7 linked regions of the Homo sapiens genome follow. The protein of the gene in region 1 interacts with the protein of each later gene in a pairwise test. Each region holds a gene or a part of one and is shown in the gene's direction. Other genes may lie near its edges.

Region 1 (4,368 bases):
TGTCTTGATAGACAGTCACCATACTGGTTTTTCCTCCCGGCCATATCATGATCCTCTCAAGGAGTGTTTTTCTTATATTATTGTTTTAAAAAGCTCACAGTAACAATTTTATTTTATAATGTCATTAATTAGAATGAATAAAAAGTGAAAATCTCTAAGAATTATGGCAAACAGTAAATGCATACTAGCAATTAAGGCAATAATTTCTGTTTGCATTCATAAGAAACATCATGTAGGCCGGGCGCCATGCCTCACACCTGTAATCCCAGCACTTTGGGAGGCCAAGGCAGGCGGATCACCTGAGGTCGGGAGTTTGAGACCAGCCTGACCAACATGGAGAAAACCCGTCTGTACTAAAAATAGAAAATTAGCTGGGCGTGGTGGCGCCTGCCTGTAATCCCAGCTACTTGGGAGGCTGAGGCAGGAGAATCACTTGAACCCGGGAGGTGGAGTTTGCGGTAAGCCGCGATTGTGCCATTGCACTCCAGCCTGTGCAACAAGAGTGAAACTCCATCTCAAAAAAAACAAAACAAAAAAGACAAAAAGTCATCATGTAGTTAGAAATCTTTTAAAACTTATTTCTTTAGTTTCTCTCTGTTGAACTTTTTTATTAGTAAAATGCAAGTCTTCCCATCCTCCTCTCAGATTTCATTACAAAACCTTGTTACGTTTGGGAAGATTTCTGAAGTTTTCTAAAAAGATCTCCACACAGAAGGGTTTGCCCAGGGAGCTGCTCAACATACATCCTTCTCAGCTTTTTACCCTTAATCTTTTTACAGACGGAATCAGTCCCCAATGCCTGGAAATTCCTCATTGGATTACTGTGTTTTAAACAGAATTTCGTGAACAGCCTTTTATCTCCAAGCGGAAAGAAAGGTACTTGTGCATTGTGAACATCCTAACATTCTTTTCCTGTGGATGGTAAGGGCAAAAATCCCTTTAACAGGAAACGGGGGAGGTTGCTGTTTCTGTGGATTTACTGGGAGAGAGATGATAATATTCTGGAAGGAAATTTCATTGTTTAAAAAATAAAGTCAGGTTTCTGTTGCATATGACTTAGAGGAGACAATTGCAGAAAACTCTGGAATTGAGGAAGAGAACCATTCCTGTCCTCCCTGAGGGGAAATCTGGCCCCTTCCCCACCCCATGAACATGGGTGGGGCCCCCAGGCACAGGATTGTGAAGCTCGCAAGTGCCCACCCCGCTCGCTGGTGAAGCTGTGTCCGGGAAGATGAGCAGAGACTGTGCTCTGCTAATCTCTCCCCGATGAGCCTGAAAAAGTACCAGGCAAAGACACCTGCCGCCTTTCTCCTTTGCCTTGGGGGTGAAGGTGGCCTCGCCAGCCCTGCAGGGACTCCCATCCTTTCTTGCAGCCACCTTCTCAGTGGTGGGAACCATGGGCAGCTGAAGTCCTGCAGGCGGGCAGCCCCCTCGCCAGGGCAGCATGGTGCCATGGGGCGGCCGGAGACCAAGCATCCCGTTTCTCTTTCCTGCAGCCGTTGCTTCATTTATAAATGGGCGCGTTGGGACAAGATGGACTGGTTGTGCCTTTCCGTTCTGAGATTCTAGTTCATCTGTTTTCTAAAATCCTGGCAAAAGCAGATCACTCTGGAAATTCTTGCCATGCTTTGGGCATTGACAGAAGGTTCCAGGGGCACTGTTAGTCCTGCTACACCCCTTGGCAGACGGTTCTTCCCCAAGAGACAAAGTCGCACCTAGAAATTTGAGAGCACGCTGCCCTGATTGGTCCCTCACTGTCACATTGGATTTGGACTTGAGACCCAGCCAGGCTGGAGGGAGAGGAGCCAGATGGGACATTCTCAAGCTGCGAAGGGGTTTTGTCCAGTCCTGATTCAGGGCGCTAGAGTCCCAACATGGCACCTGAGAAAAAGTGAATTGGGTGTCCTCAGTTCAGACCCCTGGGCACAGCTTATGGTTGTTTGATTTAAAATAATCTCTCAGTTGCTCTGTGGCCTATGTGTAATTGTATTACTATTTCTGTGGAAAAGGAATCACTTCTTTTTATACATAGTTTGAAAAAAAAAAAAAAACCTTAAAATTTTATATTTTACCACTGCAGTTACAAGAATTGTCTTGTTAGGGTTTACAGATGTGCCATTGTTCTGTATAACAGAGAAAACCTTCCAGTCTTCAAGGGCTGAGGGAGAAGGTGGCTGCCCACTTGCAGAGCTGCCTGATAGAGGAAAAGGTGGCATTTTATATTCCTGTTTTCTTCCAAGTAGAGAGTAAAGCAATTCTCCAATAAACTACTTGAAACATTTATTAAATTGTAAGTCTGAATTAGGAAAATTATTGTTATGGTTTCAGTAAGCACTTGAAATCAAAATGGGTGCACTTTTTAAAAATGTGTGATAAAATACACATACCATGAGATTTACCATTAGTAACATTTAGTATATTTATAATACATAATCCAAAATGGTGCTTTTATTTTTGGTTGGAAACTATCATCATATGATTGAACAGAACAGGAATATGTTCTTAATGAATAAATAAGTGCACACACGACTTTTTTATTTTCCAGAAAATTTTCTCACTCAAGGTGAAGCCAAATAGTATTTCCAGTATATTTCTGACGTCAGGTGACGGCAGTGTTAGAACCCCGAGGTGAAATTTCTTTTACTCCTGTGGTTGTCAGTCAGGCTTATGGATCATGAAGGATTGGCTGGTCCTGCAGCCTCGTCCTCCTGGGTTGCCTAGAATCTCGGTAGTTTTGGCCAAAGGGCTCATCTGCTGGCCTCTGTGGATGGCGCCCTGAGGCCTCCGTAACCCTCCCCGGCTGCTCTTTCAGATGTGGAAAGCTTCAGCAGGCCACGCTGTGTCCATCGCCCAGGATGACGCGGGGGCCGATGACTGGGAGACCGACCCTGATTTTGTGGTAGGAGCCGCCAGCCTTTGCTTTCCTCTTTCATGAAGTGGAAGTGGCTCTCCTGGGTTTTTCTTTGATGGGGTGGTGGTTTGTCTGTGTCACAATCCAGGCTGTGAGATTTACTGGTCGCTTTTCTTTTCAGAATGATGTGAGTGAGAAGGAGCAAAGATGGGGTGCCAAGACGGTGCAGGGCTCCGGGCACCAGGAGCATATCAAGTAAGAGGCGTCGCCACCACCCTCCCGAGGGCCCCTCTGCGGATGGAGCCCCAGGTGCAACAGGGCCCATGGTCATCTGTGGAGGGACAGCCCGTGTGGAAACTGCATTTATCTTCTTGACCTGATACCCATGCAGTAAATGAATATAAGACACACACATATATGTGTATTTGTGTAATGTGTGTGTTTATATGTGTATATTTAGATACTTCTGTGCTCAGTAATTTTTAAATTCCCATTGCAAACAATTTCCGTATTTATAATTTTAGAGTGTCCGCTTCTCAGTATTGTGGCTTTTATCAGGGAACATTTGTCCCTAAGCTCTACCTTACAAGCGAGAGGTTTCTAAAGTATGAGATGTCTGAATAACTGAGACCTTAAATGCCCTGTCCCTTTTTTTATTATCTGGAAATGATTATGTGTTAATAGTGAGGTACTGTGAGCTTTGTGTTCTTATCGAAAGCCCAGAGTTGGGCACTGAGTGAACCCTGTCATTGTTTCTCACTTGGCACTATCTAAAATGCCAGCTCTTGGGGCAGTTTTTTTTTTCGTCAGAAAGTGTAGATAAAAGGAACTTTTAAAATATGCTCAGACTTTTATTTTAGGCCACGCTGGGTTCAGAGTGGATCCTCCTTTCCCTGGCTGTGAAGGCAGCACCACTGACCCGGTGACCGCCTCAGTATCCCGGGAAGACTGTCCCGCTTGACCACGGTCCCTTCAGCTGAGAAAGATTTAGTCCTTCCTCCAGAAAAGAAGGCACAGCCTGCACAATGGCTTTTTATTTTGTTGTTAAAGATTTATTTATTTATTTATTTATTTATTTTGAGACAGGGTCTCACTCTGTCACCCAGGCTGGAGTGCAGTGGTGCAATCATAGCTCACTGCAGCTTTGACTTCCTGGGTTCAAGCGATCCTCTCACCTCAGCTTCCTGAGTAGCTGGAACCATGGGCGCACACCACAATGGCTAGCTAAGTGCTTTTATTTCTTGTAAAGATGAGGTCTTGCTTTTGTTGCTCAGGCTGGTCTTGAACTCCTGGGCTCAGGTGATTCTCCTGCCTCAGCCTCCCAAAGTGCTGGGATCACAGGTGTGTGCCGCCGCACCTGGCCCCCAGTGGCTTTTTATACACAAGTTTTAGTCCCTCTCTGGCTTGCTCAGCACACTCCCTTCCACAGAAGCAGCTTCGGAACTCCGGTGGCCGTGCGGCTGCCCAGGACAAGAGACTGGAATGGGGCTGACTTGGGAGTCCACTGTAGCCTTGGG
Region 2 (4,368 bases), on another chromosome or scaffold:
GTTCAAACAGAGGCATGGCACCAGCGGATGGAGCTGGTGTGCAGCTGGGGTTAGAGTGGCATGTTGGAGTCAGATGATTGGGTGGGAGATAGACTGAAATGCTGCCAGGTGGCTGAGGATAGATGGTCAAGCCCTGGAGTTGTTGCTGGATCTCTAAACATTTGCAAGGTAAATGAAGTGTGGTGTTAGGATCACTGGCAATGGGTCAGACAACCTTGGTTTGTCTCCCTCCTCGTTGCATCTTCGTGGTGCCTCTGACTAACCTGTGAAATGTGCTTGTCAGTACATGCAGGTGGCTGTGGCCCACATCCATACACCTCACTCTGTACCCCGTGAACTCCTGACTCAGCCCTCTCTTAGCCCACTGTCCACCGTGGCTCAGCACCTATGCCATCTGGCACAAAAGGAAGGGGTGGAGGGATGTCAGAGTGGAAACAGATAGCAGCCTTGGTCGGTGCTGTTAAAAATCTCTCTTCTGCAGGATTTCCTGAGCAGAAGGGGCCTGTGTGTGCATGGGCTTCATTTGCTTCACAACACATCTGCCTTTGCCATGGTTAACAATTTGAAGACATGGTACAGGGCATCGATCCCTTCTTCTCACCTGGGCTTGCCTTTGTGTTGTTCCTTTCAGGAGAGTGGGCAAATGACCTGCGGCACGGCCATGGCGTATACTACTACATCAATAATGACACCTACACTGGAGAGTGGTTTGCTCATCAAAGGTTCGGTTTCTATCTTGGGTCTTAACGGGATTTGCTTATGTAATGAGAACATGATGTCTGCAGATTGTTTACACTTACTGAGGAACAGAATCATAACAAAAGCCCAGTTACCAACTCTGCCAGGCAGGTCCAATCTTTCTATGGCTTTGAGGCAAGGATGCCTTTCTGTGCAAGTGTAGACTCAAGTATCTGACATCTGCACCTCAGTTGGGGCAGAGCACGTGAGTCTTTCACCCAAGAGTCCCAGGGAGTGGAGGGCACAGAAGAGCCACTGGGGGACCTGAGCCACAGCTCCCACTAGCTCTGCCTCTTCCCTGGGGAAAGCAGCTGACACACAGGAGGCTTGCCTCTGTCCAGCTGGCCTGTCCTCTGTGCCTCTGGCAATGTCCTGTGCTTGGGGCACACTGAGCAAGGGGCACCTTCTGACTGGACACAGATATAGAAGCTACATCGCTTGTGAGCCTGCAACAGCCTGGGCCTCCCTCAATGTCAATGTCTGTGTTTTAAACCTGGGAGATTTTTCACTGTGCTGGAACGAAATACCATGTTCCCCTTGTCTTAACCAGGCATGGGCAAGGCACCTATTTATACGCGGAGACGGGCAGTAAGTATGTTGGCACCTGGGTGAACGGACAGCAGGAGGGCACGGCCGAGCTCATTCACCTGAACCACAGGTACCAGGGCAAGTTCTTGAACAAAAATGTAAGTCCATGGGAAGTGACATTTGCCAATGAAGTACAAAATAACCCCCTCTGGCAGCCTGTGCAAATGTGTGACCAGAGAATACCAAAAACTCAGAGAAAACTGAGTCCGGCCTATTCAAATGTGGAGAACAGGACAGCTGTGCCATTCTCTGAGCCTCTGGTACCCACAGAGCACAGAATTGGGGGAAGGGAGGGATTGGCCCGTTTCTCTGGATCTCAGTACAAATTCCCACTGTCTTTCAGCGGGGACCTGTTGCATTGTTATATAACACGAGAGGGCATCTGAACCTCTTGTGTGTATTCCTTCTCATGGGTAAATCAGATACCAAATATCTATTTCCTGCAATTGAGCATAGAGGTGTTTGGGTTTTGTTTCCCTGGAAGGGGAGGTGCGACATCCCTGGGGAGGAAGACCCCCAGCTCCCTCCTCATGCTACAGGCCAGCCTGCGTGCTCCTAGTTGTGGTGGGAATTAAGGCTGCCAAGGGCCTGGCCCTGCGTCTGGAGGCTTGCCAGCTTCTAGCACCCATGGTGGGCCGTTTCTGTTTGGAAGACTCGGTGGTTCCTCTTGCCCTTATTGTACAGAGAAACCTTGAATAATTCAGAAGCTAATACTCAGGCCATCGTGGTAGCTTTGATCAGGGGTTGAGCAGAAACTTTCCCTGAAGAGAGAATTTGCGGAGCAAATTGATGGTGTTAGAAGTTGACAGAGGGAATGTTTAGCTGATACAACGAAGTCTCTTCAGACTCTCTTAGAACCCAGTTTTCATTTACGTATAATTCATGCCCTAACCACAGATTTTACTTTTAGTCTTCATCAAAACAGCACATTCCCCTCAAACCCATACATTGTTTATATAATTCCCAGCAAACTTTCTGTGGGTCTTTTTGGAGGAGATGGGAAGGTGGTTGCAGAGGAAGAGAATTTGATGAAAATGAATCTGGAAGAATCAATCAGCTTGTCCAGCCTAAACCAGTCTGAAAAATCGGGGTAAAAATGGAGGCTTTGTTTTGCTAGTTAGTAAAAAACTTTAAATTATACAAATAATACACAAGTACATTCCAATTGTAAAGCATTTAAACACTAGGATCCTGCCCCACCACCCTGGGCCCAATCCTTCCACACTATTTCTGTGTGTCATGTAAGCACATTCTAATACAGTCATCTGACACAGAATTATTGTTTGGGGGTTTTAATTACATAATTAGGATCATACTGTGTCAGGATACAAAAATATACATAAAGATACATATTTGTCATTTTGCACATTTGGGACTATTGTGTAGGTTAGATAATGGAATTGTGAAACCTTTGAGGATTGGCATTTAGAATCACAATCGGTAGTGCCCATTTTCCTAAAAAGTGGTGTCAGTTTATACTCTTGCCAATAGAATATGAGTCTGTTTATCATATATTCTCATCGATGTTGGATATTCTCAGTCTTTAATGTTGTTTTTGTTCTTTTCCAATCTTATGGGTAAAAAATGTCATCTCATTGTTTTAATGTGTACTTCCCTGATTACTAGTGAGGTCAAACATCTTGTCACATGTTTATTGCTGGTTTGTGTTTCTTCCTCAGAAAATTCCCTGTACATGTCCTTGTGGACAAGTTATCAATACCACAAAACTTCAATAATTAAAACAGTGTGATACCAGGATACACACACACACACACACCAATGAAGCAAATTAGGAAGTCCAGAGACAGTTCCCAGTATATAAAATAATTTCACACACAATAAGCGTGTCAAATTAACAAAGGGATGATGGGAGGAGTCAAGACATAGTGCTAGGAACACTTGACAATTATTTGGGAGGAAAATAATAGTTTTGCCTTCACACAGATGAAGATACTTTCTAGAAGAAGTAAAGATTTAAATGTACCCTAGGAAATATAGAAAAAAAATGTAGATGAATATTAACCTTGAAATGAGGAAAGAGAACTTTCTAAACAGAAATAGAAAGGAAAAACCAATAGGTTTAGCTTTATAAAAATAACTTCTTATAGATTAGAAAATGCTGTAAAGAAAATCTAAGAGATGACTGTTAAATGGGGAGAGAATATTTGCAACATTTAATATATAAAGTGTTTTATCAATCAATGTGATTTAAATGGCTAAAAATCTTGAAAAAAATGCAGGCTTACTAACAACTGAAATGAAGTGAATTAAAATTGTGAGACCCTGTTGTTTTATATAAAAAAACATGTAAAAATAGACCATTTTTACACTCCTAAAATCAAGAGTTTGAGGATCTGGGACTCTTAAGTGCAGTTATGGGAATGAAACGATTAGAGCCTCATCTAATCAAAGCACATGTATGCTTTTGTCCAGAAATTCTGAGAATTTAAGGATGGTATCAAAAGCGTACATAAAGTTTTAACTCAGAGTACGTTTGCTGGAGCGTTCTTTGTAAAAAAAAAAAAAAAATCAGTATCCCAAATACCAACAATAGTAACTGAGTAAAATAGGTTGCAATCCATAGATGAAATAAAGTACCAGGTGGCAACTGTTATTAGGAAAGAATATTTGTAAATACGGGAAGTAGTTCATGCCATATTTCTCAGTAAAAATAGAGTATGAGTTAGTATGTATAATTATGATCAGATTTTTATTTAACCATGTATACTAGAAGCAAAGTTACAAAGAATGCATCAAAATATTAGTAGTAGTTCCATCGGTAGCTAGTTTGCCTATGGATACTGATTCACTGAGGTTTTCTGAAAATGAATACATCACTTTTATAAAAAAGTAAAATGTGGTTAAAGTTTCCAAAAGTAAACAAAACAGGGCATATAAGTTCCAATCCCATCAGCCACGAGTTCACAAAAGCATTCCTTAATCCATGTTACACTTTACCCAATTTGGTGATTTGAGGTGGGTATTGTGGTGGTGACATTTGTATTTTGTATTTTCTGCTGGGTGTTGACACTTAAGAATGGT
Region 3 (4,368 bases), on another chromosome or scaffold:
TAATGTCAGGGGATATTATCTGCTTCCTTTCGGATACACTTTCTACACAGTAACGTCACCTTTTAAAAACACAAGTTAGATTATAAAGCTCTTTTCTTTTCTTTTTTCTTTTTCTTTTTTTTTTTTGAGACAGAGTCTCACTGTTGGCCAGGCTGGAGTGCAGTGGCGTGATCTCGGCTTACTGCAACCTCCGCCTCTTGGGTTCAAGCAATTCTCCTGCCTCAGCCTCCTGAGTATCTGGGACTACAGGCGCCCGCCACCACGCCCAGCTAATTTTTTTTTTTTTTTTTTTTTTTTTAGTAGAGATGGGGTTTCACTGTGTTAGCCAGGATGGTCTCAATCTCCTGACCTCGTGATCTGCCCGCCTGGGCCTCCGGAAGTGCTGGGATTACAGGCATGAGCCACTGTGCTCAGCCTTTTTTTTCTTTTTGAGATGGAGTCTCGTTCTGTCACCAGGCTGGAGTGCAGTGGCGACATCTTGGCTCACTGCAACCTCCGTCTCCTGGGTTCAAGTGATTCCCCTGCCTCAGCCTCCTGAGTAGCTGGGATTAAAGGCATGAGCCACCGTGCCCAGCTAAGTTTTGTATTTTCAGTAGAGACGGGGTTTCACCATGTTGGTCAGGACGGTCTCGAACTCGACCTCAAGTGATCCGCCTGCCTCAGCCTACCACTGTGCTGGGATTACAGGCATGAGCTACCACGCCAGGCCTAAAATTCTTTTCTTAAAGCCCGGTAATAGTTTCCTATCCCACTTTGGAGAAAATAAAAGCTCCTTGCCATGGCTTGCAAACCCTCTGTGATCTGACCCAACTTGTGTTTTCACCTCTTCCAGCCACTCTGACTTCTGACCCGTTCCTCTCACACACGCTTTGATATTTTCTCAGAGGTGTTCCCACCTCTACATGTCTCTCACCGCACTGCCTGAGGCACCCTCCAGGGTGGGCTGCATGTACCCCAAGCCTGCCTGGCACCTAGCGAAGGATGTGGTCTGTTGTGGGTGCTCATGTGTTTGCAGGATGAGCAAGTCAGCCAGCCCGGGACCCCTCGGAGCCAGTCACAGAGCCTGGAGCAGAAGACTGCTTCCCTGAGTTCTGGTCCTGGATTCTTTTTCCACGCCAGACCATTAGAAGTTTCTGAAATTGACTTCCTAATTTAGAGGTGTAAAAAGTGAAATGTCTGCCTCTCTATATCTCTAAGTCACCTACTTGCCCTTCCAAGGGCCATCGATGTCATCAGTCTCTTGGGTATCCTTCCAGACATAATTTGTGCAGGTGCAAGCCAACACGCATAGAGTGTTGCATCCCCCTTTCCATATAGCATGGAGAGCCCTGTCCTGAATCTTGTTTTTCAGGCTTAATTTATCTTGATGAATATTGTGTATCAACACATGAAGAGCATTACTAGCTTTTGTACCTATATAGGGTTCCACCTTGGGGATATGTCATTCATCTCATCTGCTGTGGGTGAACATTTAGTTTGTGCCTAGAGTCTTGCTGTTACCAATGATGCTGCAGTAAATAACTGTGGACACCGTGTAACTGCACAACACATTGCTTTCCACACCTGTGAGTGTCTGTAGGATACACTTGCAGAAGTAGACTTGCTGGGTCGAAGAGGGTGTGTGTTTCTTACTTCGATAGGTACTGCCAGGCCCTCTAGAGAGCTGTGATAATTTACACCTTCCCCAGCAGTGTAGAAATTGTCTCTTTCCCCACAACCTTGCCTATAGTTCATACATCTTTGAGTTTTGCCAGTCATATAGGCGAAAACTGCATTCTCAGAGCAAGTTTATTTTTAATACTTTTTTTTTTTTTTTTTAAGACAGAGTTTCCCTTTTGTCCCCTAGGCTGGAGTGCAATGGTGCGATCTCGGCTCACTGCAAACTCCCCCTCTCAGGTTCCAGCAATTCTCCTGCCTCAGCCTCCCAAGTAGCTGGGATTACAGGCACCTGCCACCAGGCCTGGCTAATTTTTTGTATTTTTAGTAAAGATGAGGTTTCACCATGTTGGCCAGGCTGGTCTCGAACTCCTGACCTCAGGTGATCCACCCGCCTCGACCTTCCAAAGTGCTGGGATTATAGGTGGGAGCCACAGCGCCCAGCCTCATTACTCTTATTTTTGAGTGAGGCTGAACTTCTTGCCATCTATTTAAGAATGTTTCGGCCAGGTGCGGTGGCTTGCGCCTGTCATCCCAACACTTTGGGAGGCCAGGGTGGGCGGATCACCTGAGATCGGGAGTTCCAGACCAGCCTGACCAACATGCAGAAACCCCGTCTCTACTAAAAATACAAAATTAGCCAGACATGCTGGTTCATACTGATCCCAGCTACTTGGGAGGCTAGGGCAGGAGAATCGCTTGAACCCAGGAGGCAGAGGTTGCGGTGAGCCAAGATCGCGCCATTGCACTCCAGCCTGAGCAACAAGAGTGAAACTCCGTCTCAAAAAAAGTAAATAAAGAAAAATAAAAAAGAATGTTTTGTTTTATTTTCTGTGAACTTTATCTGTTTGTATCCTTTTTCTATCTTTATTAGATTATTAATTTTTTATTACTTTATAGATATGCTTCATGAATTAGCCCTTTATGAACTGAGTTGCAAATATTCTTTTCCCCATTTCTTGTTTAACTTATTGTGATTTTTGCCACACAGAGATGTTAAAATTTTAATGTTTGAAGGTCAATCTTTTATTTTTTATTTATTTATTTTCTGAGACATGTTCTTGTTCTGTTGCCTGGGCCTGAGTGTAGTGGCGAGATTGTGGCTCACTGCAGCTTTGACCTCCCAGGCTCATGCGATCCTCCTTCCTAAGCCTCCCTGGTAGCTGAGACTACCACGCCTAGCTAATTTTTGTATTTTTTGTACAGACAAGGTCTCCCTATGTTGTCTAGGCTGGTCTCAAACTCCTAGGCTCAAGCGTTCCTCCCACCTCAGCCTCCCAAAGTGCTGGGATTACAGATGTGAGCCACTGGGCCCAGCCGACCAATCTTTGGTAGCTTCCAGTTTAGTGTCATAGTTAGAAGTCCACACTCCCAAGTTACAAAAGTTTCCTCATAGCTGATTCTTGTTTGTTTAGGGCTTTGTTTTTTTTCCATTAAGTCCTTGATTTGTTTGGAATTAGGCCTGATGTGGTGTGAGGCATGGACCAAACTTAGTTGGCATTTTTCCAGATGATTATGTAGTTTATTTTAATACCATTTTTTCACTTTCCCTCTTTTTTTTTTTTTTTTTTCTTTGAGTTGGAGTCTTGCTCTGTCACCCAGGCTGGAGTGCAGTGGCGTGATCTTGGCTCACTGCAAGCTCCGCCTCCCAGGTTCATGCCATTCTTCTGCATCAGCCTCCCAAGTAGCTGGGACTACAGGCACCTGCCACCACACCCGGCTAATTTTTTGTATTTTTTAGTAGAGATGGGGTTTCACCGTGTTAGCCAGGATGGTCTCGATCTCCTGACCTTGTGATCCACCCTCCTCGGCCTCCCAAAGTGCTGGGATTACAGATGTGAGCCACCCTGCCCGGTCTACTTTCCCTCTTTATTTGATATGTTACTTTTATGATATGCCAAGTCTTCTTTATATCCATTTTGCATATTTCTTGTTAGGTTTGTTTATCGTTATTTTGCATCTTTCGTTGCTGCTAGAAACGAAGTATTTTCTTCCATGTTATCTTCTCACTGTTCTTTGTAGATATGAAAGCTGTTGATTGCTCTGTAATGATTTTGTCCTTAGCCATGTTCTTTTATCCTTTTACTACTTATAGTAGTTTCCAGTTGATCTTCTTGATTTGTTTCTCGTGTCTATAATCATGGCATCTGTGCAGTGTGATCATGTTACCTCCACATTCCTTCCTTTGCCTGACTGTGTTGCTTTATGTGTCCAGAACAGTGTTAAGAATTGTGCTTGGAGATGTCATTGCCACGTGCCTGGCTTTAATGGAATTGCTTCTGTGGTTTTTCATTAAGTCCGATACTGGGTTATGGGTTAATTTCCAAGTAAATGGTAGTCGTAGGTGTGCTATTCATGAGCATTTCTATGTGTTTGTCTTCTGGGCATGTAATAGAATTGTACTCCCTGTTCACTTGAAATTCAGTTGGCTCTGGTGACTCACTTGGCCAGTGAAATGGGAATGTTGTCGTGTGTGTCATTTCTGGGTGGAAATCTTCAAGAACCAGTGTGGAATTGGTTCTTTTCCTTCCTGCCATGGAGACGAGCGGTGTTCCTGATGGTGGAGGCTCCATCAGTTGGGGTCCTGGAGTGAGGAGGCCAGGGAGCAGGGCCCCAGCCTACCCCTCTGCAGACATATAGTTTGAGTGAGAAATATACCTTTGTGGTTTTTGGTTTGTTTTGAGACAGTGTCTCTTGCTCTATTGCCCAGGA
Region 4 (4,368 bases), on another chromosome or scaffold:
GTGGTGATCTGGAGCTGAAGGATTTGCAGAGTACTGGCTAGAACTGCAGGCCCTGCACCTTGGGTAGAGGGAAGCTGGATGGGTCATTTATGGGCTCTCTGTCTGTGCAGCGTGTGTGCTAGGTGTGTCCATTTAATACTTAAAACGGATTTTCAGGAATGTTACATGCCTCATGTAATGTGGATTTTTTCATGTGGTAAGTGATGTCCTGTCTTAGTTAAGGCTTTAGGTGTAAGTCAGAAGTGTCCCTGGGCATCTGTTTCTGTGGCCTGACTCCTCTGGTTGGTGTTGGGGCCAAGTGGATTAGAATACCACACAGCCATCGAGGTCTTTTTTTCCCATCTGCTCTTTTTGCGTGGAAGGAAGATGTGTTGTGATTGCAGCGCTGCTGAGGAGCACGTGTCCAGCTAATGGGAGGAGGAGGGCTGGCTTCCCTGTGGGGGGGACTGTCCCCTTGCCTGCCGTCCTTGAAGGCACCTGCGGCCAGTGACTCGAGGAGCAAGTCCTGTGCACAGACCGCCCCCCTGATTCGCTCACCCCCCCAGTCTGGGCCTGTTGGCCAGGGCAGCACCCGAGGGAAAGGCTGCAGCAAAGGAGCCAGCATCATGGAAACTGTTTTGAGGGAGAATAAGCTCAGATTAATCTCATGTTTGTGGAACACTGATAGCATCCCACTTGTCTTCTTATACCCCCAGAATCTCAAATTTATATTACGGGGAAACAGCAGTTAGTGCATTTTAAAAGATGATTCTGGGGCCAGGCGCTGTGGCTCATGCCTGTAATTCCAGCACTTTGGGAGGCCGAGGCGGGTGGATCACCTGAGGTTGGGAGTTCGAGACCAGCCTGGCAAAGATGATGAAATCCTGTCTCTACTAAAAATACAAAAATTAACCGGGTGTGGTGGTGGGTGTCTGTAATCCCAGCTACTTGGGAGGCTGAGGCATGAGAATCGCTTGAACCTGGGAGGCGGAGGTTGCAGTGAGCTGAGATCGTGCCACTGCACTGCAGCCTGGGCGACAAAGTGAGACTTCGTCCCAAAAAAAAAAGGGGGGGGTTCTGGAATTGTCTGCTCACAAGTGGAGAAGTCAACAGGAAGAAAATTAGAAAATAAATTGGATTTCTGAAGCCCTCAGTATTCTAGGATGGGAGCAGGAGGCAGGAAGTGGTGGCCGGGTCATTGGTTCATTAGTCCACCAGTGTTGGCTGGTGTTGGGGCACTGCCCCCAGGGAGAGCTGCTTGTGGTCACCCCTCCAGTGAAGCAGGCCTGTTTCATTGTCTGGGATCCCACAGTCTCCCTCATTGCCTCAGCTACTTTCCCACCTGGTGTCCCCGACTGGGTGCTGTTATCCTTCATAGTGTAGCCTTTGATGCCAACATGAAAGGTCAATGTGGCAGGGATGAGGTTGTGAGATGAGGTCTGGAGCATATTCTCTTTATGTAGAACCTTCTGGTTACTTGGGGGACTGGGGGGCGGGGAGCGGGAAAACTAAAAATCCAAAAACGGGCGTCACAGACTGGAGAGCCCCGTGTTTTACTTCCGGCTCTGTTTTCTGTAATAGCATCTTGGCACTCTCAGACGATGCGTCTAGGTGGGAGCCTTCTTACCTCACACTGGACCCCGTCTCACCGGCCTGTGTACAGGTGTGTGTGCGCACACACATACAGACACACCTCACACGAAAGTCATTTTAAGGCAGTGTTGGAGGGACCCAATCATGACCAGACCCTTAGTTGAGTCTCTCCAAGGAGATGCCGTCCCAGAACTGCTGACCCTCAGTCTAAATTTGTGCCCTGGGCAGCTCTTCAGAGACCCCTACGATGGGGCACTCAGGCACTCACCTTCTCTAGCAGACCTTTTTGCCTCATGGTTCCGTCACTTTAAAACCACTCTCTGAGGTTCCAGTCACTACACAGACATGTTTTCATAAGGAAGCCCAGGTGAGTTGGCATCCAGAGTGAGGGCTGCTCTGCACCCGGAGCACAGAGTCCACACTTCGGATGCTTTCTCTTGGCTGAGGAGCTGGAGCCAGCCAGGGCCCTCTGTGCAGGGGCCTACTGCAAGAGCCCAACGCTGTGCCCAGGAAATCATGGGAATGTGAACCCCCTTGGACTTAGAGGCAGGGGCCATCTGCTAGGAAGGGTGTGTGGAAGGAGCCTCTGAAGCACCCTTGAAGGATTCTGGGAGAGCTTTGGTCCAGGTATGGGAGAGTGTCCCAGGAGGAATGTCAAGGCCCAGAGGTGGGCGCCCAGGGCCTGCTGAGTAATCAGCGAGCTTGGGGTCTGTTCTCTGGAGCAAACTGCCTCACGGCCCTGCACATCCTGGTTTGCCAATGGAAATATCTCTGCCTTACAAAGCTGTTTCAGTTCCCATGATGCCGTCCGTGTCTGTCATAAGCGTTGTCGTCAGCAGGCAGGGGTTTACTCCTCTACCTCTGGATTCCTTTGCAGGTAAGAGTAGAGGGGGCTGCTACCTTGCCAGTTCTAGAGAGGCATAGCTTCGTCATTTAGCCTGAATTCAGAGCCTTGCCAATGATGCTTCGTATTTTGAGACGGCACCCTGGTTTGTGTTCGTTATTAATTTCTCTGTCTTGATTTGGTTCTCACATTGGCGACTACAGCTTTCTTTCTGGAAGGAGTAGCCCCATGCTGTGCAGGTTTTGTTTTTGCTCCACCTGTGCTTAAGCAAGAGGCGGTTGGCATTCTCAGCATCTCGTGTTGTAGAAGTGGTGTAACTTGTCACGTTTGCTTTTGCAGAGTAACAGTTACCCCTCAATGAGCGACCCCTACCTGTCCAGCTATTACCCGCCGTCCATTGGATTTCCTTACTCCCTCAATGAGGCTCCGTGGTCTACTGCAGGGGACCCTCCGATTCCATACCTCACCACCTACGGACAGCTCAGTAACGGAGACCATCATTTTATGCACGATGCTGTTTTTGGGCAGCCTGGGGGCCTGGGGAACAACATCTATCAGCACAGGTTCAATTTTTTCCCTGAAAACCCTGCGTTCTCAGCATGGGGGACAAGTGGGTCTCAAGGTCAGCAGACCCAGAGCTCCGCGTATGGGAGCAGCTACACCTACCCCCCGAGCTCCCTGGGTGGCACGGTGGTTGATGGGCAGCCAGGCTTTCACAGCGACACCCTCAGCAAGGCCCCCGGGATGAACAGCCTGGAGCAGGGCATGGTTGGCCTGAAGATTGGGGACGTCAGCTCCTCCGCCGTCAAGACGGTGGGCTCTGTCGTCAGCAGCGTGGCACTGACTGGTGTCCTTTCTGGCAACGGTGGGACAAATGTGAACATGCCAGTTTCAAAGCCGACCTCGTGGGCTGCCATTGCCAGCAAGCCTGCAAAACCACAGCCTAAAATGAAAACAAAGAGCGGGCCTGTCATGGGGGGTGGGCTGCCCCCTCCACCCATAAAGCATAACATGGACATTGGCACCTGGGATAACAAGGGGCCTGTGCCGAAGGCCCCAGTCCCCCAGCAGGCACCCTCTCCACAGGCTGCCCCACAGCCCCAGCAGGTGGCTCAGCCTCTCCCAGCACAGCCCCCAGCTTTGGCTCAACCGCAGTATCAGAGCCCTCAGCAGCCACCCCAGACCCGCTGGGTTGCCCCACGCAACAGAAACGCGGCGTTTGGGCAGAGCGGAGGGGCTGGCAGCGATAGCAACTCTCCTGGAAACGTCCAGCCTAATTCTGCCCCCAGCGTCGAATCCCACCCCGTCCTTGAAAAACTGAAGGCTGCTCACAGCTACAACCCGAAAGAGTTTGAGTGGAATCTGAAAAGCGGGCGTGTGTTCATCATCAAGAGCTACTCTGAGGACGACATCCACCGCTCCATTAAGTACTCCATCTGGTGTAGCACAGAGCACGGCAACAAGCGCCTGGACAGCGCCTTCCGCTGCATGAGCAGCAAGGGGCCCGTCTACCTGCTCTTCAGCGTCAATGGGAGTGGGCATTTTTGTGGGGTGGCCGAGATGAAGTCCCCCGTGGACTACGGCACCAGTGCCGGGGTCTGGTCTCAGGACAAGTGGAAGGGGAAGTTTGATGTCCAGTGGATTTTTGTTAAGGATGTACCCAATAACCAGCTCCGGCACATCAGGCTGGAGAATAACGACAACAAACCGGTCACAAACTCCCGGGACACCCAGGAGGTGCCCTTAGAAAAAGCCAAGCAAGTGCTGAAAATTATCAGTTCCTACAAGCACACAACCTCCATCTTCGACGACTTTGCTCACTACGAGAAGCGCCAGGAGGAGGAGGAGGTGGTGCGCAAGGTGAGGCTGGGTGTTGCAGGCAACTGCCATGCAGATGTGTCCTTGGTGCCGTACTTAGACCAGGTGGCCCGGTGGTGAGCAGATGCGGCAGG
Region 5 (4,368 bases), on another chromosome or scaffold:
AACCTGTCTTTACAAAAAATAAAAACTTAGCCAGGCATGGTGGCCCACGCTTGTGGTCCCAGCAACTTGAGAAGCTGAAGTGGGAGGATCACTTGAGCCTGGGAGGTTGAGGCTGCAGTGAGCTGTGATTGTGCCACTGAATCCAGCCTGGGCAACAGAATGAGACCCATCTCAAAACAAAAGTAAAAAACAGTTGCTGCATCCAAATCCCTTCTAAAGCTTGGTGATCTGGAGGCTAGGGGTGAGAGAGGGCATGGTCCTACCTGGGCACATGAAATTCTGTCAGAGAATTAATGTTTTTGGGGGCTGGATATTTCCAGAGGAAGTTGGCAGAAGTCACAGAAGAAGAGTGGCTGAGCATCCCCGAGGTTGGCGATGCCAGAAATAAACGTCAGCGGAACCCACGCTATGAGAAGCTGACCCCTGTTCCTGACAGTTTCTTTGCCAAACATTTACAGACCGGAGAGAACCATACCTCAGTGGATCCCCGACAAACTGTGAGCTTCCAAAAAAGGGCACATGTGGCCCATTTAGTCCTGTTAGATCAGTGGCAGGAATGGTGGGTGGTGTTGGATTCAATGCTTCTGCAGGTCATGGCTATGCTGTGGCCGAGTCTGTCTGCACAGCTGTGCATATGTCAGGCCACTGGGGAAGTATTTCAGAGAGTAAATTTCTTGGGCATGCAGTGCAAACCGTTGTTTTATTCTTGCCTTTCCTCTCTTCCCCTCCAGCAATTTGGAGGTCTTAACACACCCTATCCAGGTGGACTAAACACTCCATACCCAGGTGGAATGACGCCAGGACTGATGACACCTGGCACAGGTGAGCTGGACATGAGGAAGATTGGCCAAGCGAGGAACACTCTGATGGACATGAGGCTGAGCCAGGTGAGTTTGTCACACAGCATTTTCCTGTGGACAGGTTTAGACAGTTTAATTTTGTTTTGTTTTCTTTTTCTCCTTCTTCTTCTTCTCCTTTTTCTTCTCCTCCTTCTCCTCCTCCTCCTTCTTCTCCTTCTCCTTTTTTTTTTTTTGGCTTGATTTTTGCCTGAATAATTCCGCAGATTTTTAAAATTTTGACCCAGAGTCTTGCTGTGTCACTCAGAGGCTGGAGTGCAATGGTGTGATCTTGGCTCACTGCAACCTCCACCTCCTGGGTTCAAGTGATTCTCCTACCTCAGCCTCCTGAGTAGCTGGGATTACAGGTGCCCACCACCACACCCGGCTAATTTTTGTATTTTTTGTAGAGACGGGGTTTTACCATGTTGGCCAGGCTGGTCTTGAACTCCTGACCTCAGGTGATCTGTCTGCCTTGGCCTCCCAAAATGCGGGGATTACAGGTGTGAGCCACTGCACTTGGCCTTTTTTTAAAATATAAAATAATAATTTTTTAAAAAGTGTGTTTTTTTCCTGCCTCTCAGTAAATTGTCTTGTGGCCCTGCATGGAACGTGTACTTTGATCTGGAGACTAGGTGCTCTAGACACCAGTGAAGTACAGAACTCTTTCTGATATGCATATCAGATACCACGAAGGAACATACTACTTTTGGCCTGGCCAACATGGTGAAACCCCGTCTCTACTAAAAATACAGAAATTGGCCAGGTGTGGTGGCGGGCGCCTGTAATCCCAGCTACTTGGGAGGCTAAGGCAGGAGAATTGCTTGAACCCGGGCGTTGGAGGTTGCAGTGAGCCGAGATTGCACCAGTGCACTCCGGCCTGGGCAACAGAGTGAGACTGTCTCAAAATAAAAAACAAAAACAAAAACAAAAAGTGGCACAATCATGGCTGGCTACATACAGCCTTGACCTCCCTGGGCTAAGGCGATCCTTCCACCTCAGCCTGCCAAGTAGCTGAGATTACAGGCATGTGCCACCATACCCAACTAATTTTTGTATTTTTTGTTGAGATGGGGTGTCACTAGGTTGCCCAACCTGGGCTGGAGCTCCTGGGCACAAGTGATCTGTCCGCGCTGGCCTCACAAAGTGCTGGGATTACAGGTGTGAACTACCATGCCCAGCCTGAAATTTGTTTACATAGAAATTGTAAAACTTTTTGGGCCAGGCACTCATGCCTGTAATCCTAGCACTTTGAGAGACCAAGGTAGGAGGATTGCTTGAGGTCAGGAGTTCAAGACCAGCCTGGGCAACATGGTGATGGTGAGACTCTGTCTCTACAAAAACTAAAAGAAATAGCTGGGCCTGGTGGTGCCTGTAGTCCCAGCTGTTCGAGAGGCTGAGGTGGAAGGATTGCTTGAGCTAGGGAGTTTGAGGCTGCCATGAGCTATGATCGCGCCTCTGCACACCAGCCTGGGTTACGGAGTGAGACTGTCTCAATAAATAAATAAAACTGTCACAGTAATTTTTTTGTGGTAAAATATATGTAACACAGAATTTACCATTTTAATCATTCTTGACTGTACATACCTTCACTGACATAATTATGTTCATGTTGTTATACAACCTCATCACCATTCATCTCCAGAACTGTTTTCATCTTCCCAAATTGAAACTCCGTACCTGTTAAACATTGAGTCCCCGTGCGCTTTCTCCCCAGCCCCTGGCATCCACCGTTCTCTCTGTTTCTATAAATGTCACTACTCTCTGGATCTTATATGACTGGAATCATACAGTATTTACCTTACTGTGACAGGCTTATTTCAATTAGCTCATGGTGCAGCATGCGTCAGCATGTTCTTTTTTTTTTTTTTTTTTTTGAGACAGAGTCTCTCTCTGTCACCCAGGCTGGAGTTCAATGGCATGGTCTTGGCTCACTGCAGCCTCCGCCTCTCGGGTTCAAATGATTCTCCCACCTGAGCCTCCCAAGTAGCTGGGACTACAGGTGTGCACCACCAAGCCCAGCTAATTTTTTTTTTTTTTTTTGAGACGGAGCCTGGCACCGTCACCCGAGCTGGAGTGCAGTGGTGTGATCTCGGCTCACTGCAACCTCCACCTCCTGGGTTCAGGTGATTCTCCTGCCTCAGCCTCCCGAGTAGCTGGAACTATAGGCGTGTGCCACCATGTCTGGCTAATTTTTGTATTTTTAGTAGAGACGGGGTTTCATCATGTTGGCCAGGATGGTCTTGATCTCCTGACCTCGTGATCCACTCGCCTCAGCCTCCCAGGATGCTGGGATTAGAAGTGTGATTTTTTTGTATTTTTAGTTAGAGATGGGATTTCACCATGTTGGCCAGGCTGGTCTCGAACTCCTGACCTCCAGTGATCCACGTGGCTCGGCCTCCCAAAGTGCTGGGATTACAGGCATGAGCCCCGGCGCCCCGGCCAGCATGTTCTCAGTTTAAGGCAGGATGAGACTTGACTCTTTGGTGTGTGTGGACCGCATTCGCTCATCTATGTAGACCGCATTCGCTGACCTGTTTATTCGCTGACGGACACTTGGACCACTTTCACCTTTTGACTATTGTGAATAATGCTGCTGTGAATACGGGTGTACAGATATTTGTCAGAGACCCTGCTTTCTATTCTTTCTTTTTTAATAAAAATTTTATTTATTTTTTTTTGAGACGGGGTCTTGCTCTGTCACCCAGGCTGGAGGGCAGTGGCGTGATCTCGGCTCACTGCAGCCTCTGCTTCCCAGGTTCATGTGATTCTCCTGCCTCAGCCTCCTGAGTAGCTGGGACTACAGGCATGTGCCACCACGCCTGGCTAATTTTTGTATTTTTAGTAGACACGGGGTTTCACCATCCTGGCCAGGCTGGTCTCGAACTCCTGATCTTGTGATCCACCCACCTTGGCCTCCCAAAGTGCTGGGTTTACAGGCGTGAGCCACCACGCCTGGTCAAAAATTACACTTTTTTTTGTAGAGACAGAATCTTGGGAGGCTGAGGCAGGAGGATTCCTTGAGCCCAGGAGCTGGAGGCTGCACTGAGCTATGATTGCCACTGCACTCCTGCTTGGGTGACAGAGTGAGACCCTGTCTCAAAAAAATAAATAAAAATATAGATCTTGGACAGACGCGGTGGCTCACGCCTGTAATCCCAGCACTTTGGGAGGCCGAGGCGGGCGGATCACGAGGTCAGGAGATCGAGACCATCCTGGCTAACACGGTGAAACCCCGTCTCTACTAAAAATACAAAAAAATTAGCCAGGTGTGGTGGCGGGCGCCTGTAGTCCCAGCCACTCGGGAGGCTGAGGCAGGAGGATGGCGTGAACCTGGGAGGTGGAGCTTGCAGTGAGCCGAGATTGCACAACTGCACTCCAGCCTGGGCGACAGAGCGAGACTCCATCTCAAAAAAAAAAAAAAAATAGATCTTTTTCCATACAGAAGAAATTTGTTATTATCACAAGGTGTTGTCTGAGTGAAATGAAGGCTGTTTTCCTTCTCCTTCTGACTGCTCTCTCAGGGTTGTGG
Region 6 (4,368 bases), on another chromosome or scaffold:
TGTGGAACTCCACAATTTCACTCAAATAAGCCCTCATTGAAGTTTTCAAGTTAGAGGGCACAGGATGGCAATCTTAACAGTCAAGACTACTTTAATAATGCCACAAACAGGAGGTATGTTTATTAAGTGTACAGGTAGTTTGCAGTAAAGTGCTTTGTATGAGGTCATGCACAAGACCACTAGGTATCAGCCAGTTAACTTGGGAGGTTTGAGCAATTAGGCAGCTCTTCCTCCCTCCCTTCCTCTCTCCCTCCCCCCTCCCTCCCTCCCTCCCTCCCTCCTTTCCTCCCTTCCATTCCCTTCCTCCCTCCCTCTCTTTCTAAAATGTAAGCTCCTCAATAAGATATAAGCTCCTTGAGGGTAGTAGTCTTTATCTGTTTTCACTGTTGTGTCTCCAGCTCCCAAAACAATGCTTGGCACCTAATAGGCACTTAATAAATACCTGTTAGATTGAATACCTTCTTTCTTTCTTTCTAGCTATCGCACACTCTTTGAGTACTTGACTCTGGGCCCTGCCCTGTGCTGATTTCTGGGGGTACAGAGTAGAACTAGGATGCAGGCCCACAGTCCAGTGGGGAGAACAGTGAGCCATAGTGCTGTGGAGATAAGGTCTAGGCTACCGGGGCAAGGCAGAGGAGGCACACCTGACTCAGGACAGAGGCTGAGCGAAGCTTCCAGGAAGATGTGATGTCTGAGTTCTGAAGGATGATCTGGAGCTGGCCGTTGAAGGTTGAAGAAGGTGGGGGAAGGAATTCCTGGCTCAGGAAGTAGCCTGTGCAAAGCCCTGGATATGTGAGAGAGCTGGTGTGGGGGAGGAATTCACTGCCAGTGATTCAGGAGGAGAGGGAGCAAGGCACCTCCTGACTCAGAATAAGCCCCCAGGGTGGAGGTGGGGTGGGAAGTTCCTCACATCCTGTTTGTTCGTCAGGGAGTTGGATATGAGGGTCTTGAGAAGGTTAAACTGCATGGTTCAAATGAAGTTGTAATATTAACTAACTGTGGATTTTCTTTATCTACACTCAAGTTTTCATTATCCTTGGGCAGATGAGACCCAGGCAACCTCGGCTCCTTCATGCTTTGCAGGGCCAGGCCCTGGGCCCCTCTAAAAAGGCTAGACAGAGCAGGAGGGGCTCCGAGCCACAGTGAGAAAGAGAGAGAAAGCAAGAGTCTACCTGCCTGTGTGTCCCCGGCTGTGTGTATCCAGTTGCACTCCAAAGCTAAATGTATTATTTATGCCCCTGCTTTTCTGTGAGTGGGGAAATTTGAGGCTTGACGATATCTTTTATTATTATTTTTCTTTCTGAATAGCATAGATTCTTCAGAATCGTCTGTAATTCATCAAGGGGAAAATCAGAATTTTTTTTTTTTTTTTAAAATGGACTCAAAGAGGAGATGAGTTTTTAAAAAATATCTATCATCTGTTTTTATTTTGACTGGAATCATTTGCTTCCGAGCACAGTGTAATTAGCTGCCTGACAATTTATAGCCTGATCCCCAGTAACTGAAAAATACCAAACTCAAATTATTCCCCCAGACTAGGAGGCCCGGAGGTGATTGAGGTCTCCTTACGTTAACATCCTCTGTCCTTGGGGGCTGAGGGGGAGGGCAGTTCTCTGCCCTTGCAGGAGGTGGTATCTCCGAGTTGTCAGCAAGACAGGCCTTGTTGTTATACACTGAGTGTCTCCTTTGACTCAGTAATTCCATTTCCAGGATTTTATGCTAAAGAAATAATCAGATATTGTGGGGGGAAAAATGTGCAGGGAACCCCCACTGCATTTTTTGGTTATTTGCATTAGCCAGAAAAAGGAAAATAACTTACACATTCAATAATAGGGGAGTGGTTATATAAATTTTCCTAGGTCTATGTGATAGACTAATATACAGCCATGAAAAGCTATGCTCTAAATGAATTATAAGGCTACATGGAAATGCACAAAATAATGCTGAGTAAAAACCAAAGATAAAATTTACTACTATATACAATATCGTCTAAAACAGAGCACCCACACAGACACATACACATAAGAAGAAACTGGAGAAGCCTATGCCAAAATGCTGACAATGATTATCTCAGGGTGATGGGATTATGGGGATGAGTGGTAGTATTTTCCTTCTACCATTCTGTATTTGTCAAAATTTCCCCAATCAACATCTATTACTTTTAGTAAATAGAAAAGACAATGGATGACATGTTAAGGAAAAGGATCTTTGGATTTGGAATCGTCAGCTTCCAGGTGAAGTCCCACTTGCCCAGCACCTACTATCTGACTCTAGTGTCTCTGAGCCACAGTTCCTCATCTGTAAAATGGGGTTAAATACTACCCAGTTCACAGGGTTGTTGTGAGGATCCAAAATAATGTATGTATTAATGAAATGCCTGGTGCCTATGCTGCAACCATGGACACCATCACTAAATACTAAGAAGGTGAAATTCCACGAAGCTTGCTGAAATCCCTGGATGGGGGTACTGTCAAGATGAAGTTATAATAAGAATGTTCCTAGACAGCTATGAATTGCAGCCATTCTTCCCTTTTCCAGAATATGTAAAGAATGTTTGTGTGCCCACGGAGGAGCCGCATCTAGCCTTTGAGGCTGTCAGCTCATCTTTCCCAACCCGAGGATTTTCCTTTCCTCTGACTCCTCCCTTCATTCTCCCCCACTGACATCTGTTCACTGCCTCGCCAACCAAGGGGGAAAACATTCTTTGGAACTGAAGCTGAGGCACCACCAAGAGTCAAGGCAGCTATGAGATGTTTATTGTCACAGAGAATATGTGGTGCTGGCTGACCACAGAACCTGCCAGGCTGGGATGCCAAGGAGGGACTTTAATGAAGCAGCAGAGGATGGATGCAAGCCGCATAGCCAGGCAGTGTCCCCTGCCTTTGGGCAGAGCTCTTGTCCAAGTGTCTCACTGGCTCTCTGTTTTCTTCCCCTTGGGATGTCTGCATGGCTCCTGGTTGAGCTCACCAGTTTTACAGAACCAGCCTGGTTTATGGGTGAAGAAACACCTTCTCACAGAACTTATGGGGCCTAAGCGTGTTTCAGTAAAGTACTGGGCAGTTTGCCTGAGGGCCCAGCATGCCTAACTCTCACCAGCGTGGATATGAAGCGAGGAAAACCTGAGCTCACAGCCAGGCAGCCTCAAGGACATAGGCACACCTCAGCAGTGTCTACAAGATGCCCTGGCCACCAGGCAATCCAGCCATCTCCCTGGGTAGAATCCTTCACACTGCATGTCTGATTGCATTTTTCATTTTTTAATTACAGCCGTAGACTCATATAGACTCTGACTGCCAATCTAAAGCACCTAGAGAGTTTTTTTAAATTGTTAATGTTTTGCTAAATTCTTAGTAATTATACAAAATCATTATGTAGACCAATAGATATTATTGACCAAGATATAGTGATGCTTAAAACAAAGTCCTCTGTAATCAGTACAACATGTTGGTAGAATTTACCCTAAATGTTAAAAAAAAAAAAAGTACTAATGCTGTGGCTCCACCCCATACCAATAAATCCAGAATTTCTGGGGGATGAGGCCCAAGAAACAGTACTATTTAAAAGTTCCCATGTGATTCTACCGTGCAGCTTAGGTGAAGAACTCCTGTTATAGATGTTAAAGCTGGGAGAGACCCAGTTTCCTGACTTATTTGAACACGCAATCCTTTACAAATTATACTTGTGGATAATGAGCATGAACTATGATGCAGACTTAGATTAAAGTAAGTGACAAAAAAAAATGATCTCGCAGATGAATTAATTGTAAGCAGTAATAATGCGAGGTTAGGTTACATATATATTTTGTTTTTGTTTTTTTTGAGACTGAGTCTTGCTCTGTCGCCCAGCTGGAGGGCAGTGGTGCGATCTCGGCCCACTGCAACCTCTGCCTCCCAGGTTCAAGTGATTCTCCTGCCTCAGCCTTCCTAAGTAGCTGGGATTACAGGTACCCGCCACCATGCCCGGCTAATTTTTGTATTTTTAGTAGAGACGGGGTTTCGCCATGTTGGTCAGGCTGGTCTTGAACTCCTGACCTCGTGATCCGCCCACCTTGGCCTCCCAAAGTGCTGGGATTGCAGGCGTGAGCCACCGTTCCCGGCCAATATATTTTTTAACATTATAAGAGAACATAGGGGTTGGGCACAGTGGCTCATGCCTGTAATCCCAGCACTTTGGGAGGCCGAGGCTGGTGGATCATCTGAAGTCAGGAGTTTGAGACCAGCCTGGCCAAACATGGTGAAACTCCGTCTCTACTAATAATACAAAAAATTAGCCGGGTGTGGTTGCGCATGCCTGTAATCCCAGCTACTCAGGAGGCTGAGGCAGGAGAATCACTTGAACCCGGGAGGTGGAGGTTGCAGCGAGCCGAGA
Region 7 (4,368 bases), on another chromosome or scaffold:
GCCCAGGCTGGAGTGCAATGGAGTGGTCTTGGCTCACTGCAACGTCCGCCTCCCGGATTCAAGTGATTCTCTTGCCTCAGCCTCCCGAGTAGCTGGGATTACAGGCACACGCCACCATGCCTGCCAAATTTTTGTATTTTTAATAGAGACGAGTTTCACCATGTTGGCCAGGCTGGTCTTGAACTGCTGACCTCGTGATCCGTGCGCCTCGGCCTCCCAAAGTGCTGGGATTACAGGCATGAGCCACTGTGCCTGGCAAAATATGTTTTTAAAACATAAAACTCTTGAAGTATTTTTATAATTTTTATACTTAAAGCACTTGTACAAAATAGAGGCTTTGCAGAATTTGATTCCTAATTCTGTTATATACCCTCTGTAAGATTGAGGGAGACATTCCTGAAATAAAACATGCTGTTTATCCTTGTATTATATTGGCCAGAATATTTTTATTTTTATTTTTTAAAAATATCCTATTGAGTGGCCCATATGGGGATTAGCCCCCCAAATATTGGCTAGACTTTGATCACAGGGCCACAAGAGTCAGTTCAACTAGGGAAAGTTTTCTCTTCCAAACTGTAACGTAAAATTGGGGTCCTATTTTTAGGTGGAAAGAGAAAATGGATGGGCTTTTCTATAGGGGATACATTTAAATTTCTTTTGAAACTTAGTAGGGGTAAAGTTAGAAGCTCCTCCAGTAAATAATGCTTGTTACTATGGAAAGCATGTTCTTATGGAATGCTTGTTCCTATGTAGAAATTAAGATAAAGAGGTAACTTAACTCTATGTAAAATCAGTGATTGTTTCTGTGTGTGAAGCTGAATATCTTGTCTTTGTGGTTGTGTGCAGCACAGGGAAGTGCTTCAACATTCCTCAGAGGGAAGGTGTTGGAATAATGACCCTAGAGCAGTAGTTTCCAAACCTTAAGTCACATAAGTGTTAATTGGGGTGTTTATTGAAATTGCAGATTCTCGAGACCCATCCCTTGGTATATTTGATAAAGGAACTTGCAGTGTACTTTTTAAGTATAAACATTCCAGGTGATTCTGGTGCTAGTTATTGATTGCTGTGTTGGATTGTTGGAAACTTTGCTTTGGAGTAATTAATACAAATGACTTTAAGGCTCTGCTGAACCTTTTAGATGGGTTGCTGAATATAATTGTGTTTTCTCCCACTTAAATATGAGAAATGAGAGAAATGGGATCAAAAGTAGCTACTGAGTCTTTCAGTTTAGCAGTTAAGTAAAGTGGTCATATTGTAACTGCCATTACAAGTAGCGCATCAGGAGAAATGATTTGAGGTATGAAAGGTGGGATGCAAGTTAAGACTTCATTTTTAGATTGTGCTGATTTTAAGATACCTTTGAGAAATATAGGCAGCAAAATCTCTGATTAGGCAGTTAGATGTCCGAGTCACAGATTTGGGGACCTTTTGTTCTTAAACAGTTAATAGCATGGAAGTGGGATGAGATTACTTAGGACAAAGGATACATGGCAAGGAAATACCAACTTTTCTTTCGCCCACCACTGAGGAGATAATCACCCTTCTGTGTCTTTTTTTTTTTCTACCAAACTTGAAAATTTAATCCTGGTTTTGTTATAATGTATTTGGTATGTTAATATTATGTAGTTGTTTCAGGAAATTTTTAATGACAGGTATATATTGTAGCTGTATTATTATATATATTGTAGCCATATACACAACAGTGATTTAAACTTTAATATTACCCTTATATTGTTTCATTGTTTTGTTAAATAAAGTTTATCCTAAAGCCGCCTCCTTACATATTTTAAGTCCAGCCTAAAGGTTTTTCTGTACATGGCGAACTATAACAAGTGGAGGTATAAACAGACCGCAGCCTACTCTTGTGCCAGTGACCAAATTTTGGCTGAATCAAATGTAGCCAACTGTTCAAATAAGGCAAATACCAACCTGTAATCAATCCAGCTGTTTATCTCACTTCCGTTTTCTGTATATCACTTTTCCTTTTTCTGTCTATAAAACTTCCACCACAGGGCTGTGCTTGAATGTCAGAGCCTACTCTGGCTGGCTCTGTGATTCGTGAATCACATTCATTGCTCAGTTAATCTCCTTTAAATTTAATTCAGCTGAAGTTTTTCTTTTGTCACGTTGCTGCCACCCTTTTTAATGCCTAACCCACCTTTGACAGCTCTATTTTGAACCTTGTTTAACTTATTATTTATTAGCAAGCCTTTAGATCCATAAAATGTCTTTGGTCAGAATATGTAAGCAACCATTTAGCTGGGTATAGAATTCTTTCTAGTCAACAGCCTTTTCACTTAAAGTACTATGTATAAGCCTTGCTTTACAGTTATGTGGTTTTATATTATGGAAAATTCTGAGGCCAGCCTACATTTTTTGTTTGTAAATAGCTGTTTTTTTGGTGTGTGCACAAAAGATTTTTCTTTATTTTTACATTATGAATGTAAATGTGAAAACGTGTACAATATGAATATTGTTTTCTGTAATCCTTTGTCTGCAGGCCACTTTTTTCTATTAATGTCAACAAATATGTTGAATCTTTGCCCTTGAGTTCTGTTGGTTCTTTATTCTTTTTCTCTTCATTTGGAGGATTTGAATTTTCCTGCTCACATATTTTTCAGTGTATTTTATTTGTGCTGTTTCTGTGATTTGTGAGGTTTTGCATTCTTCACTGATAGTATTTGTTTGCTTCTATTATCACATTCAGCTCCCCCTCTTAACTCTGTTTTCTTAATGGAATCCCTTGATCCTAGAATTCATCTTGATTTTATTGAGCACAAAAGACTGTGTTTAAAACTTATGTCTGCTTTCTGTACTTAATGTTTTTAGAAACTTTATATCTTTTTTCTTCTAAAAAAAATTAAATATAATAAAATTGTAAATTTCCTTGACCAGCCAGTTTATAGTCAAGCCCTCTCTCTCCCTCTCATTACTGAACCACTGATTGGTTGTTTGTCCCTATAAGACATTTTCCATATTGTCATAATTGAAATTATGTACTATATGATCTTTTAAGATGTTTATCTTTCACTCAGCATGGTATCTTTGCAATTCATCTATGTCGTTGTGTAACTCAATTCTTTGTTCCTTTTTATTACTAGGTAGTTTTCTATTACATGGATGGATGACCATTGTGTCTATTCCATTCATCCTTTGAAGGATATTTGGGATGTTTTCCTTTTGGGGGTAATGTAAATAAGGCTCCTATAAGAATTTGTGTATACTTAAAATATGTATATTTTTAAATCATACAATAAAATTCACTTTTGGCGGGGGCGTACAGCTCTATGAATTTTAACATATGTAGATTTGTGTAACCACCCTATCAGTTAGGATACAGAACAGTTTCGTCATCCCCCAAACCCTCCCTTATATACTAGCCTTTTGTTTTTCCATGCTTCCCCCATGCCTAAGCCCTGACAGCCACTCATCTGGACTCATAATTTTGTAATATCCTTTGTGGTTGTGGTGGCTTCAGGACTGTCTTTGGGCTTTTTGTGTTTAGTCATTGAACCAGTAAGAGAATCATTGAGTTCAGTTATTTGTCTCAGAATGGGTACTTTTACCCTCCCCACCCCGTTTCTTTCATTGCTGGATGCTAGTTGCATATACCTTTCTCTTTGCAAATGTGGAGATGGGAGAGTCATGCTGTAAATTGATTTTACCAGTTAAGTGATTGACCAGCCTGTGGAGATTTAAAAGGGAAAGCCAGTATAATGGGTTGTGCTAGGTATTTGACTGTCCCTTAAGTTTGAAACCACTGTGTTAGAAACCAGTTTTCCTTGCTTGTTAGCTGGTTAGCATATAGGGTACCATGTGTTTTTGTCCAGTTTTCTTCCTGGTACTTTTAGCCTTGTGTAGGCAGAATTTGTATTTTCATTTGTTGATTTTCTCTTTGATATGCTTGTGCTTGCATTTGGACTTCCCAGTATAACTGCTTTCAAATACTTTGGTCATTTTAGTGCTGAAGGAAGGATGTGCTGCCTGTCTATTCTAGGTCCTTCACTTCATTGAAAAGAACAAATTAGTGGTATTTTACTAGGATTTTCTTTACTACTTATGCCTTTTTTTTTTTTTTTAAATAAAAGTAGTTGTAAGTCATTATTAGTGTCTGGTTTTAATATGGCCTTATCTGTCATGTATTTAGCTGGAATTTCTCAAAGCTTCTGGTATGTGGATGTACTATATCCCCAAGTGAATATCTTGGAAACCTTGGGTAAAGGTTGGGTTTCTTAAACTCAACCTTGGGGGAGGCAGCACTAATTGCAAAAGACTGCTACATTTGATTAGATTAAAATCTGTCCATCAAAAGATGCTTTAAAGAAAGTTTAAGAGGCCTGGCTGGGCATGGTGGCTCACATGTGTAAT

The links.
Region 2: the proteins of CTTN (region 1) and RSPH1 interact in a two-hybrid assay, tested with the Homo sapiens proteins (one large-scale study listed by BioGRID and IntAct).
Region 3: the proteins of CTTN (region 1) and GTSE1 interact in a two-hybrid assay, tested with the Homo sapiens proteins (one large-scale study listed by BioGRID).
Region 4: the proteins of CTTN (region 1) and YTHDF1 interact in a two-hybrid assay, tested with the Homo sapiens proteins (one large-scale study listed by BioGRID).
Region 5: the proteins of CTTN (region 1) and PRPF6 interact in a two-hybrid assay, tested with the Homo sapiens proteins (one large-scale study listed by BioGRID).
Region 6: the proteins of CTTN (region 1) and NHSL2 interact in binary tests that used the Homo sapiens proteins (3 or more experiments, as listed by UniProt).
Region 7: the proteins of CTTN (region 1) and YTHDF3 interact in a two-hybrid assay, tested with the Homo sapiens proteins (one large-scale study listed by BioGRID).

The regions. Positions count from the first base shown.
Region 1 is NC_000011.10:70,404,486-70,408,853, forward strand, and holds part of CTTN (src substrate cortactin), read left to right. Parts: intron 1-779; 5' UTR 780-876; intron 877-2,812; coding exon 2,813-2,899; intron 2,900-3,032; coding exon 3,033-3,106; intron 3,107-4,368.
Region 2 is NC_000021.9:42,482,725-42,487,092, reverse strand, and holds part of RSPH1 (radial spoke head 1 homolog), read left to right. Parts: intron 1-631; coding exon 632-722; intron 723-1,288; coding exon 1,289-1,424; intron 1,425-4,368.
Region 3 is NC_000022.11:46,299,687-46,304,054, forward strand, and holds part of GTSE1 (G2 and S phase-expressed protein 1), read left to right. Parts: intron 1-4,368. UniProt on the Homo sapiens protein: May be involved in p53-induced cell cycle arrest in G2/M phase by interfering with microtubule rearrangements that are required to enter mitosis. Overexpression delays G2/M phase progression.
Region 4 is NC_000020.11:63,202,195-63,206,562, reverse strand, and holds part of YTHDF1 (YTH domain-containing family protein 1), read left to right. Parts: intron 1-2,755; coding exon 2,756-4,276; intron 4,277-4,368.
Region 5 is NC_000020.11:63,994,596-63,998,963, forward strand, and holds part of PRPF6 (pre-mRNA-processing factor 6), read left to right. Parts: intron 1-320; coding exon 321-497; intron 498-731; coding exon 732-887; intron 888-4,368. UniProt on the Homo sapiens protein: Involved in pre-mRNA splicing as component of the U4/U6-U5 tri-snRNP complex, one of the building blocks of the spliceosome.
Region 6 is NC_000023.11:71,917,005-71,921,372, forward strand, and holds part of NHSL2 (NHS-like protein 2), read left to right. Parts: intron 1-4,368.
Region 7 is NC_000008.11:63,188,753-63,193,120, forward strand, and holds part of YTHDF3 (YTH domain-containing family protein 3), read left to right. Parts: intron 1-4,368. UniProt on the Homo sapiens protein: Specifically recognizes and binds N6-methyladenosine (m6A)-containing RNAs, and regulates their stability. M6A is a modification present at internal sites of mRNAs and some non-coding RNAs and plays a role in mRNA stability and processing.